2 separate regions of the Homo sapiens genome follow, and region 1 is linked to region 2. Evidence: fine-mapped expression QTL. A gene starts in region 2. The other region holds a variant in brackets. All regions are shown on one strand. Distances are between the middles of the regions. Region 1 overlaps ZFX (zinc finger protein X-linked). Region 2 holds the start of ZFX (zinc finger protein X-linked).

Region 1 (5,251 bases), 64 kb after region 2:
GCTTAAAAAGCATATGAAGACACACAGTGGCAGGAAAGTGTATCAGTGTGAGTACTGTGAGTATAGCACTACAGATGCCTCAGGCTTTAAACGGCACGTTATTTCCATTCACACGAAAGACTATCCTCACCGGTGTGAGTACTGCAAGAAAGGCTTCCGAAGACCTTCAGAAAAGAACCAGCACATAATGCGACATCATAAAGAAGTTGGCCTGCCCTAACAATACTTCTACAGAACGTTTGTAGAGATATTGGCCTTGAAGCAGAAAATTCATTTTAAAGCCAATCAGTCTCATTCACATACAATACTGTATATTGATTTATGCTGTGTACAAATAGAATTATTACTTCTAGTTGACTTTTTTTTAAATATACATTTTGCTCAGTAGTGTGTTCTGAATTCTATTCAGTTTGTTTAATAAATAGGGAAAACTGGCAACATGCTAGTTACTTTTAATAAAGTAATCCCTGATTCTATACCGAAGTTTTATATCTTAGAATTTTATATTTATTTAAATATTTACCTTGCTTACCTTGATGGTACTCTTCTAAGACCATTAACTTAAGGTAACTTTATATTGGTAACTCTGAAAGTATTCATGTTGACTCATTTTTTTCCCCATACATTTCTCACAATAAAATTGTCAGAGACATCTACTAATATAAATGGGAGATTTTACAGTCAGGTCTAATTATCATAACATGGAAGTCATTTACTTGTCTTGCTTAATATTTTCAGACCACTTGACAGTGAAAGTTTCCATTTGAGCTGTTGCGTCCCTGGCTTTGCTGAGTAAAGAGCAGTGGCTGGGTTCGTGTTTACTTTTCAAATATACTTCTTTTGGCTTTCTTTGGATTATTTACATCTTTTGTCAGCGTAGCAAACTTTTAGAAAACCTTATTGAAAAACTGTGCTTGCTCATGTTGTATTTTGATTATTCTGTCTGTGCGGCTTCATCTTGGAATGGTTGTGTGCTACAAATGACACTTACTGAGGACTGCATTTTGGAATCTCCTAGAGGTAACTCATGGCTTATAGGATCTTTTGCAACTTTATGTATGTAAATGTACCCTGAATTATATATATACACATATATATCATGTACCTGTGTGTATTGCTTATTTTACATATTTATACACACAACCCCAAGTAGTAGTTGTTTAAAATCTATAATGAAAAGTATTAAATTTACAATAACATGAAAGATCCAGGGATGCATGAGAGAGCATTTTGTAAGTCATGCTCTTCAGAGAGACTACTCAGGTGAAGAATTAGAAGGAAAATAAGGACACTAGTATTTTTAAAGAGTAAAGATATTTTCTTTTAAATATCTTTGGTAATTGAAACATAGAGGTTAAGATGTTTCTAGGTAGAATGTTTTCATACAATTTCACCTCCATGTCTTTATGTTTTTCTGAAAAGCAAATGAGTATCCAGACATGACTCCCACAGTTCTCTTTGAGAAGCCTGAGAGGGAACTCTGTCTTACCTAGTGAGGGGGATGGAAAAGAAGTGATGGCTCTGTGGACCAGAGAACGGGTGCTAATTATGACTTCACACTCGGCAAGTTCAGGCTGATCTGTTATTTCTCAGTTACAGTTAGCAAACTTTAAAAACTTAACACTCAAGTTGGCTTTGATTAAAAGGTAAAGATGTGTTTTAAGTGGATAAGGAAAGTCTGAGGCCTTATTTGGAACATCACTAAGTCTTCCACAGGTTTTTTGTTTGTTTGTTTTTTTTTGTTGTTTTTTTTTCTTAAGACGGAGTCTTGCTCTGTTGCCCAGGCTGGACTGCAGTGGTGTGATCACTGCAACCTCTGCAGCTCACTGCAACCTCTGCTTCCTGGGTTCAAGCAATTATCTGCCTCAGCCTCTCGAGTAGCTGGGATTACAGGCGCCCACCACCACGCCCGGCTAATTTTTTGTATTTTTAATAGAGATGGGGTTTCACCATCTTGGCCAGGCTGGTCTTGAACCCTGACCTCGTGATCCACCTGCCTCGGCCTTCCATAGTGCTGGGTTTACAGGCGTGAGCCACCGTGCCCAGACACCACATAGGTCTGAATCAGTGTCATACATTCATAAAACAAACTCGGTTAATTAGAACTTGGTTATGTTAAGACGAATCTGGGAGAACAGAAAACAGTTTTTGGGGTCCCTTCAGTTGGCTATTGGTCCGTATGCATCTAGCACATTGTAGGAGATTTAGAAATTGTCTTCCCACCCGATAGCTGCCTTGTCACCTCATTATGGTGCTCCATCCCCTGTGTGCTTAGGTTTTTACCTTTCATCTTTCTCTTTGCCATTGATGTTTGTATTCAAGAGTTATATTTTTAGGGTTAGAAATCAAAATATTTGGTGTTTGGCAAACCTCTGAAGTGCTAGACTGATTTAGTCTAGTTTTAAACCAAGTGCTTTAGGCAGGTGTGAACTCCAGCCCAAATGCCAGTCAAAGTCAAGGCATGGGTTTTCCTAGCCTATCTTA[T/C]AGGAAATTCCTGTACCTTCTTGGCCCCCATAATGTGTTTTTTTTTTTTTTTTTTTTTTAAACTAACTTACAATTTTGTGATCCGTGATTCATTGCCCTGCGATTCTTGAAAGCTCTGTCTGTTTTTTTGTGAGAACCTTTAAAATCTCCCTTAATTTTTATTTTCCCAGAAATAATGTAAAAACACTTAAATGAAAGTGGAAATGTATTAATTTTAAATCCTATAAAATTAATACAGAAAATATAAATGATTGGGTCATTTAACTATATTTTTTTAAATAAACTGAAAGATAAAGAACACAACACTTCACACATTTTATATTTCTCTTACATACTCCGGAATCATACACAGTTCTTTTTAAAGCACAACATTAAAACCTTTAAAAGGTATTTAAGGGTTTGGTCAAGTGAATATGATAAAACATACTTGTCTGTATAAAGAGAAAATGAAATTGTAGTCACTGTTATGTACTGACATTAGTTACAACCTAGTTTTAATTCTTAAAACAATTTTGATTAGCAAAGCTAAAAAAAAATGGATGTTTCAGTTAAATGTTTTAAAGAGGTACAGATTTTTACAAGGACATAATATAAGTTATTGTTCTGTAGAAATATCCTATTAAATATTGTATGTCCCTCCCTCTGTACACTTTGTAAAGAAAGTAAAATACATAAAAAGAAAATCATATAGGGATGTGTGACATTATTGTAATTGTGTACTTGAGAATAACGTGCAAAAATAAAAATCAGAATATTTTCCTGTTATTGAATGTTTAGTCTATTTGATACCAGTACTAAGTTAATGCTTTTTCTCAAGGAAAAAAAATGTACAGTTTTTGTAAACCTAATAAACATCAAAAGCAGTGGATTATTTTCATCCCCCCATTTCTTAATTTCTTTTTCACAGCAGTGGAATGCAAAGTGCTTGATTGCTTTGAATTTTGTGACTCGGATGCAAATACTGGTAATATTTCAGTTCTGTGAATTTGCAAGTAATATTTCAGAGAAGTTAAGAGGTGATTGGTGAGTCCTTTGATGAGCATGTCCTTGGAATTCATTTTTTCTTTTATCTTCATAAAGGATTTGTTTTATTAGCATCTCCAATTCCCCTGAGATAAATTACTCATGCATAAAGTGGTTTTTGAGAGCACTTAAAGTTCATTTCAGTATTAATTTACAGCATATTTAATCAGTGGGGACTGTTACCACCTCCACAACAGAAATCATGCCCTCGAGTTACCCCACTGCGCCCAGTTTAGAGGACTAGTAGATGCTAACATACTAGGGAATGGTCATTGCCACAGTTAAAAATCGGCAGTTAAGTAAATGTCAGGAGTCAAAAGAGATAGAGTTGTGCCATCTTTGATTTTATAGACAAGATTCTGCAGTTCTTCCAACTGTATGAACAAACGTTTGCCTAATAGTTGAAACAATAAATTAAAATTTTAGGTAAATGACGAAGGGAATGTGGTGAATGTCACTGTCCAGAGCCATAAATCAGACAAAACCATACATAGCATGCTGAAAAACTTTTGTAATGGAACACCCAACAAATGACACCTAACCTGTCTGTGATCCAACAAGTCCGATAACATGCTGCTGTATTTGTATTCTCTGGGAATCTCAGTATTAATAATTTCATTTCCCACAAATTCTAGCATTCATGTAAGGAAAAACATGGCTAATCAATATCTTAAAGGGGCAATCTTTCAGAGCAGTGGTTTTCAAAGTATGGCCGGACAGCATTGGCAGCATCTTAATCTCCTGGGACTTTGTTAAAAATGCAAATTCTCAGCCCCACCCTAGTCCTACTGAATTGGGAAACTGGCGTGGGACCCAGCAGTCTTTGTTTTAACATGTTCTCCAAGTGATTCTGATGCCTGTTCAAACTTGGGAAACACTTTTAGAGCACTTGAGGAACCTAAAAGATGACTGGTTCAGCATTTTGTGTGGTAGATAAGAAAGAAATTATCACAAAAAATCAGAAATGAACAGTGAGAGAAAAATAGGACCCCAGACAGTTTATACCTTCCATTTGCTGTTTTAAAAGTGTGAGCCTGCCAAGTCAACAAGTATGCCTTTAGCGCACATGTAAATAGCCTGCACTTCCTAAATCTCGTGTGGCCTCCCATGGTTACATTCTTCAAAGGTAAACTGAGTTGAGAGGAAGATTCAGCATTTAAAAGAGAAGGGTTGAAAAAGATTGTGTGTGTGTGTGTGTGTGTTTAATTGGCCCAGGGTTACTTAAATAAATCATAACCATTTTGCCACATTCTGTAACTGTTTAGCTAAGGTCAAATTAAGTTTACCCTATGGATTTTGTTTCATCTTTTGTTTCGTGTATATACTGTTTGCCTTTTTCATAAAAATCTTGGATTTGTTATATATTGTTCCTGTTATTTTTGACATCTTTGCTATTGTAAATAAATTACTATTTTGTTTTAAGTTACCCTAGTGGAGTGTTGGCTATAGACAAGGTATATACTCGAAACGAGGAGACTTAAATCACACAGTTAATGAATTCCCAACTTGTTTGAAGCTGGAGGTGATTCGACTCCCTTCAGTGGTTCAACACTAATAATAGCACCAAGGAACATGTCACTGGTGCATATAGGCATAGCATCTGTACCGACTTGGATTTCAAAATCATGTTTTGACCTCTGTGATGGAAGTACTCACTCCATGAAGTTTGAGGTCAAAATCAAGAATTACTTTCCTTTACTTGGTTTTTCCTATTCAATTGGTCTCTCATGTTACTTGTATTGCT
Region 2 (5,501 bases):
AAACTAACAAGAATGGTGACATTAGGTTTTTCTGTCTTGAACATGCTGCTTACAGTTGCATGGATGAAGTGAGGCTCTATTCTTCTTCTTTTTTTTTTTTTTTAATAGAGACGAGGTCTCACCATGTTACCCAGGCTAGTCTTGAACTCCTGGGCTCAAGTGATCCTCTCGCCTCGGCCTCCCAAAGTGCTGTGATTACAGGACTGAACCAGGGAACCTGGCCTCCATTCTTGCCATACCGTAGCATCACACTGAGGCCCTTGGAAAGTACTTAAACGCTGATTATCAATGTTTTGAAATATTAATGTGGGCGGCCGGGCACGGTGGCTCACGCCTGTAATCCCAGCACTTTGGGAGGCCGAGGCGGGTGGATTACCTGAGGTCAGGAGTTGGAGACCAGCCTGGCCAACATGGTGAAACCCCATCTCTACTAAAAAAATAGAAAAATTAGCCAGGCGTGGTGGCAAGTGCCTGTAATCCCAGCTACTCGGGAGGCTGAGGCAGGAGAATCGCTTGAACCCCGAAGGCAGAGGTTCAGTGAGCCAAGATCACGCCATTGCACTCCAGTCTGGGAGTGCAAGAAATATTAATGTGGGCACACAAGCTATTTCTCATTTTTTTTTATTGAAACAACATTGCTTAGTTTCATTTACCTTTCTGTGAAATGTCTTTCTGTGAAAGTCTATCACAGCCTGATGTAATTTTTATAAACAATGAATACATGCTGTTACTATTTTTGAAAGGAAATTTAATCGCTTGGAAAAATTCAGACTAAAGCCCCGAGAGGAAAATTATCATCCAGTGCATGCTCAGAGATTTCTTCTTACTCTACTTTTGTTTTTCCTTTTTGAAAGCATTTGTGATTGAGAGATGTCTGAGGGAAGGGACAAATTGCATTCTGGGAGTTTTAAAGAGTTATGTCAGGCAACTAAAATACGTGGCCTCTGTATTTAAAGAGATTTCACACCAGTATACTATTTGCTTTATAATTTTTGTGTTTCTTATTGTTTAAAAATGCCTTTAACATTTAGTGCTGTGTTAAAGGATAGCATGCCAGATTCCAGATTAATGTAAAGACTCCACTATTTAACTTTTCCCTAGTAACTTTAAAACAGAGTTTGGGTTCCAAGTTCAGCATGGAAAGATAGCATAAACATTTAAACTAAGTAAAGTGCGAAATACACATTTTTGAAGTTGGTAAGTGCTGTTTAATCATTTTCCCCTTCTCTCCCAAGTCTTTTGAAACTTCAAAAGGCTTGTTTAAGCAGTGTGTTTAAAAAAAAAAAAATCCATACCCAATTGGGCTCCTCTCTATTAAGGAATGTGGAAAATTCATGATTTATGAAACGATGACACCAGTCTTACATTTCACAGGCTCCCAAGCTCTGAAACACGGGTACATAGGAAAATACACAGAAAATTCCTGTTCTTTGCAACGTGCGAAACGTTTCAAAATGCAACTTTGCTCATCTCCCTCCCCCGTACAAACTAATAAAATCAGTTTGGCTCTGACTGCTTATTTTTAAAAAGTAGACGGCCTGGTAGGTGCTCTAGGGATAACCCTTCTCCCCCCACTCCACCCCCCTTCCCGCACACCCATTTAGACTGGCAAGCCCGTTTTCATTTTATTTCAAAGATTTTTTTTTTTTAAGCGAAGGCAGGGGACGGCGGGGGTTGCTAAATTTATCTTCCTCCCCAGCCACGGGGATGAAGAAAACACATTTACTGCGGGCGGGGGTCTGAGGGCCTGCAAACAACTCGAGCTGGAGCCTCGGCCAGGACCGGCGCGAGAGGCGGTAGGTCTCCAGGGAGGCCCCCGGGGGGCGGCCGCGGCCCACGGGACATGGTGGGGGGCGGCCGGGCCGCCTGCCTCTCCGCGGGGTCGGCCGACCGCGGCCCCGCGCGGGCTTTACGGCCGAGGCGGCGGCGGCAGCGGCGCGTGTGTGGCGGCGGCGGGCGGGAGCGCGGAGGAGGTGGAAAGAAGGGGGGCGCTGTCACGGAGACTCCGGCCGCCGGAGACCCCGCCGCAGCGAGGCCACTGGGCTCCCCGGTCGCGGGGCGGGAGCGGCGCCGACACGGGGTGCCAGGAGGACCCACCGGGCGGAGGAGGGGGCCTGTCTACCCTTCCGCATTTTCCTGGGTCTCTCTCCCGGGCGGTGACGTGACGTGCTGACGGCGGGCCCGTGCCGGGGAGCTGGGCCGCTTTTTGTCAGCTCCGAGCTCGGCCCCTCCTCCCTCCCTCCGCCCGCCCCACCAGCCGGAGCCCGGCCCAGTGCTCCAGAGAAAGGCCGGCCTGCAGCACCCGCCACCGTCGCCGGCCGCCCGCACGTCCGTCCGGTGAGTCCCGGGTGCCGCCGCGGCCGCGGGGCCTAGTGCGCGCACAGCGGCCTGGTCTCGGCCTGGTCGGCGGCCCGCAAGGCGCCCTCCCGCGCTAGGCCGGGCGGCGTGGCGCGCGGCGCCGAGCAGGCCCCGAGGAGGCCGCAGTTAGGCCCGGGGAGGAGCCCGGCTGCCCCGAGCGGCGGCGGAGGCGCGCTCCGTAAGCGGGCGGGGGTTGGGGGAGGGTCGCCCGGTTGTGCCGGAGGCGGTCGAGGGGCCCCGGGTCGGCTCCGCGGCCGACCTGGGGCACCGCGCCGGGGTGAGGCCTGGCGAGGAGGCGAAGGCTGCAGGCGTGAGGTGAAGGCCGCAGGCCGGCCGGGCCGATTTTCGCTATGTAAATATCGGTGAGGGGGGGGGAGGGACGGGGGACAAGATGGCGGCGGCTCGGCGCCTGCTGCAGGGGACGATAGAGGGGGTTGCCGGGAGGGGGAGCCGCCATCTTGGAGGCGGTGTCTGGAGAGAAAATTCCGCTACAGCCCGTGAGGGGGGGTGGGAGAGCGGGCGGCGGCGGCAGCGGCGCCGGTGACGGGCCCCGGAGGCCCGGCGCGGCGGCGTGTGCGCGCGGAGGGGCGTGCTCGCTCCCCGTGGCGGCCATTGCCCTTGCCGCCATGATGAGCGCTCGGGCTCCAGGCGCTCGGCGGCAGCGCCACCTTCCTGCCTTGCCTCCCGCAGCCCCGTGACTGGCTGCAGTTTCCGCTGCGTTTCAGCTGAGCTGCCGCAGGCGGCCACCGCCGCCGCCCGGACGCCGGGACCGTTTCACCCTCAGCGCCCCTGGCCCTGCGCCTTCCCCCGCGCCTGTAGCCACCCGAGGGCAGTCGGGGCAGGTGGCATTCCGGACACCTGGGCTTACCAGGGCATACGGGACCCCAGGAAATGTTATTTTTGCTTAAGTCAAATCATATGTGGCTGCTAAGGTGCTTTCGATGCAGTTGTTTTTCCAACAATCTTTGCCGCCCCGAGTATCTGAATAAAGGAAGAAAAATAAAGATTGATGGGAAAGTTTTTGCCATTCTTTTGTCCTATAGGGAAAAAAATTGCACAACACGAGAGCGGAGGAATAAAATTTTGAATCATTCGTACTCATTTATGTGGAAACAACTTTCTTGAAAAACGATTTAAGTAGTGATCTGTTGGTGGTATTTTTTTAAATCGAGGAATAAGGGCAGACTTTTTTATTTTCTTATTGGAGGACAACTTAGTGTGGTGCATATTTATTGTGCATTTGCCTGTCATGGTATTTCGATTTTTCATTTGTGAAGTTTTAAGGCGGAGTTTCATCCCCTAACGTACTTTTTTGATTGCACACTGTGCAACTTTCTTGATAAACTCGGAGCCTACTGTTAGCGATGCACCGTGCTAGATGCTAAGAAACATTAAAAAGGTTCTTGTAATGCAGACGGTGGCTGCAAGAAGTCTCATGTTTAGAGGTAGGTGGGGCAAGGTGAAATGCAGTAAAGTGAGAGGTACAACTAATTACTGGGATTTCCGAGGGAAGCAAGGTTGCCATTGGAGGATCAGGGAGGGACGGGTTCCTGAAGTATTAATAGGTGGCATTTTGAGAAGGTTACCGAGGGATGGGTAGGACTTTGTTAGGTAGAGGTGGAGGTGGAGAAAGGACGTTTCAAGGGTGAAGCTTCTTCAGTAAACAGTAAGTATTTACAGTTTGGCAAAAGTGGATGGTATAGGTAGGGGAGTGGTGGGAATTCAGGCTAGAAAAGTTAGATTGCAGAAGGGCTTGCTTGCCAGGTGGAGGGGCTTATACTCAATGGGGTAGGCAGCGGGGGTGCCCTCAACTAGAAGAGTGATGGCACACCTGAGCTGCACCTTGTTATTTACTTATTTTTTATTTTGAGACAGGTTCTTGCTATATTGCCCCAGGCTGGTCTCGAACTCCTGGGCTCAAGCCGTTCTCCCGCCTCCCACTGCCCGCCTGTCACTGCCGTCTGTTCCCTGAGCTGTGCTTTACGGTACTTAGTAGTTCCATTGGACTAGGAAAAGTTTCAAAGTTGAAAAATAATGAGAGTAGTAAGTTGATCAGTGTTTTCATTATCAGAACGATTACAAGAATGTTCAGAAGTTAAGCAAATTTTGCTACTTTTGGAACGATGCGTCTCTATTAAGACAGCTGCTCCTTTTTTCTATCCTGATTTCTCATCCGAAATAATCTTTTGCTCAGAGTTGTCAGAATTTCTATGGTACACAAATAGGGAGGGGTTTCTAACATTTCATTTACCATGGTTGAAAAGTACAGGACTAGTGCTGTGGGTTATTTGACGAAAATGAGAAATGAGTATTCCCGTGGTAATTTTTTTTTTTTTTTGAGACTGAATCTCACTCTGTCGCCCAGGCTGGAGTGCAGTGGTGTGATCTTGGCTCATTGCAACCTCTGCCTCCCGGGTTCAAGTAATTCTCCTGCCTCAGCCTCCCGAGTAGCTGGGACTACAGGACCCTGCCACCATGCCTGGTTAATTTTTGTATTTTTAGTAGAGACAGGGTTTCATGTTGGCCAGGCTGGTCTCGAACTCCTGACCTCAAGTGATCTGCCTGCCTTGACCTCCCAAAGTGCTGGGATTACAGGCATGAACCACCGTGCCCTGCCTGTTTCCTAGAATTTTATGATGGAAACCTTTAGGTGGCATAGATACCCATTTTCAGTTTTTCCATTTTTCTAGACTGTAACAGGTCGTGAGCAGCGGTGCTCCATGAAAGGGCTGGAGGGAATGAGAGTCTCATGTTTATTATAAAGGGCTATGGTTTAGAAAAGTTCGAGAAACAGTGCATTGCATGAGGCTGACTAGAAGCAAGTTGAGAAGGCGGGCTGTGGTTGTTGAGGTGTTAAGGGTAAACATAAACTTAGAAGAACCAGGTGCTTTTATATTTTGACAGCTGGGAAAGACATAGAAGAACTATTAAGAAGATAGAATTGTTTTGCTGCGCAGTACAGCAACAGTGGATGTTCAAGATTAAGATTAGAGTCAAGTTGTGTGATTAAGACAGGTAAGTGTGTAGTTTAGTTTCAATTAGAAATGGTTAAATATAAAATTATTTTTGCCTGAAAGGGTAGACCTTGAAACTTTGGAAAACTGACTGGTGGAACACCTTCGAACCCAACCACCCTGGATGAA

Evidence for each region. PIP is the estimated chance that this variant, and not a neighbour inherited with it, causes the effect.
Region 1: its variant is fine-mapped to the expression of ZFX in fibroblasts (GTEx, PIP 0.98).

What each region holds. Positions count from the first base shown.
Region 1 is chrX:24,211,157-24,216,407 of GRCh38, forward strand. ZFX (zinc finger protein X-linked) reads left to right here. Exons shown (of 10, transcript NM_003410.4): 10 at 1-5,099. The coding sequence ends at 220. Among named protein-coding and RNA genes, the nearest start is that of ZFX, 64 kb to the left of the region's middle. The variant T/C (reference allele first, on the strand shown) is at 2,485.
Region 2 is chrX:24,147,458-24,152,958 of GRCh38, forward strand. ZFX (zinc finger protein X-linked) reads left to right here and starts at 2,272. Exons shown (of 10, transcript NM_003410.4): 1 at 2,272-2,337; 2 at 4,234-4,343; 3 at 5,263-5,373. It overlaps ZFX-AS1 (ZFX antisense RNA 1), which reads right to left and starts at 2,197. Exons shown (of 3, transcript NR_046657.1): 1 at 2,098-2,197; 2 at 1,296-1,385. RefSeq lists enhancers at 1,609-1,708, 1,915-2,728 and silencers at 1,819-2,178, 2,239-2,648, 2,669-2,718, 2,769-3,278.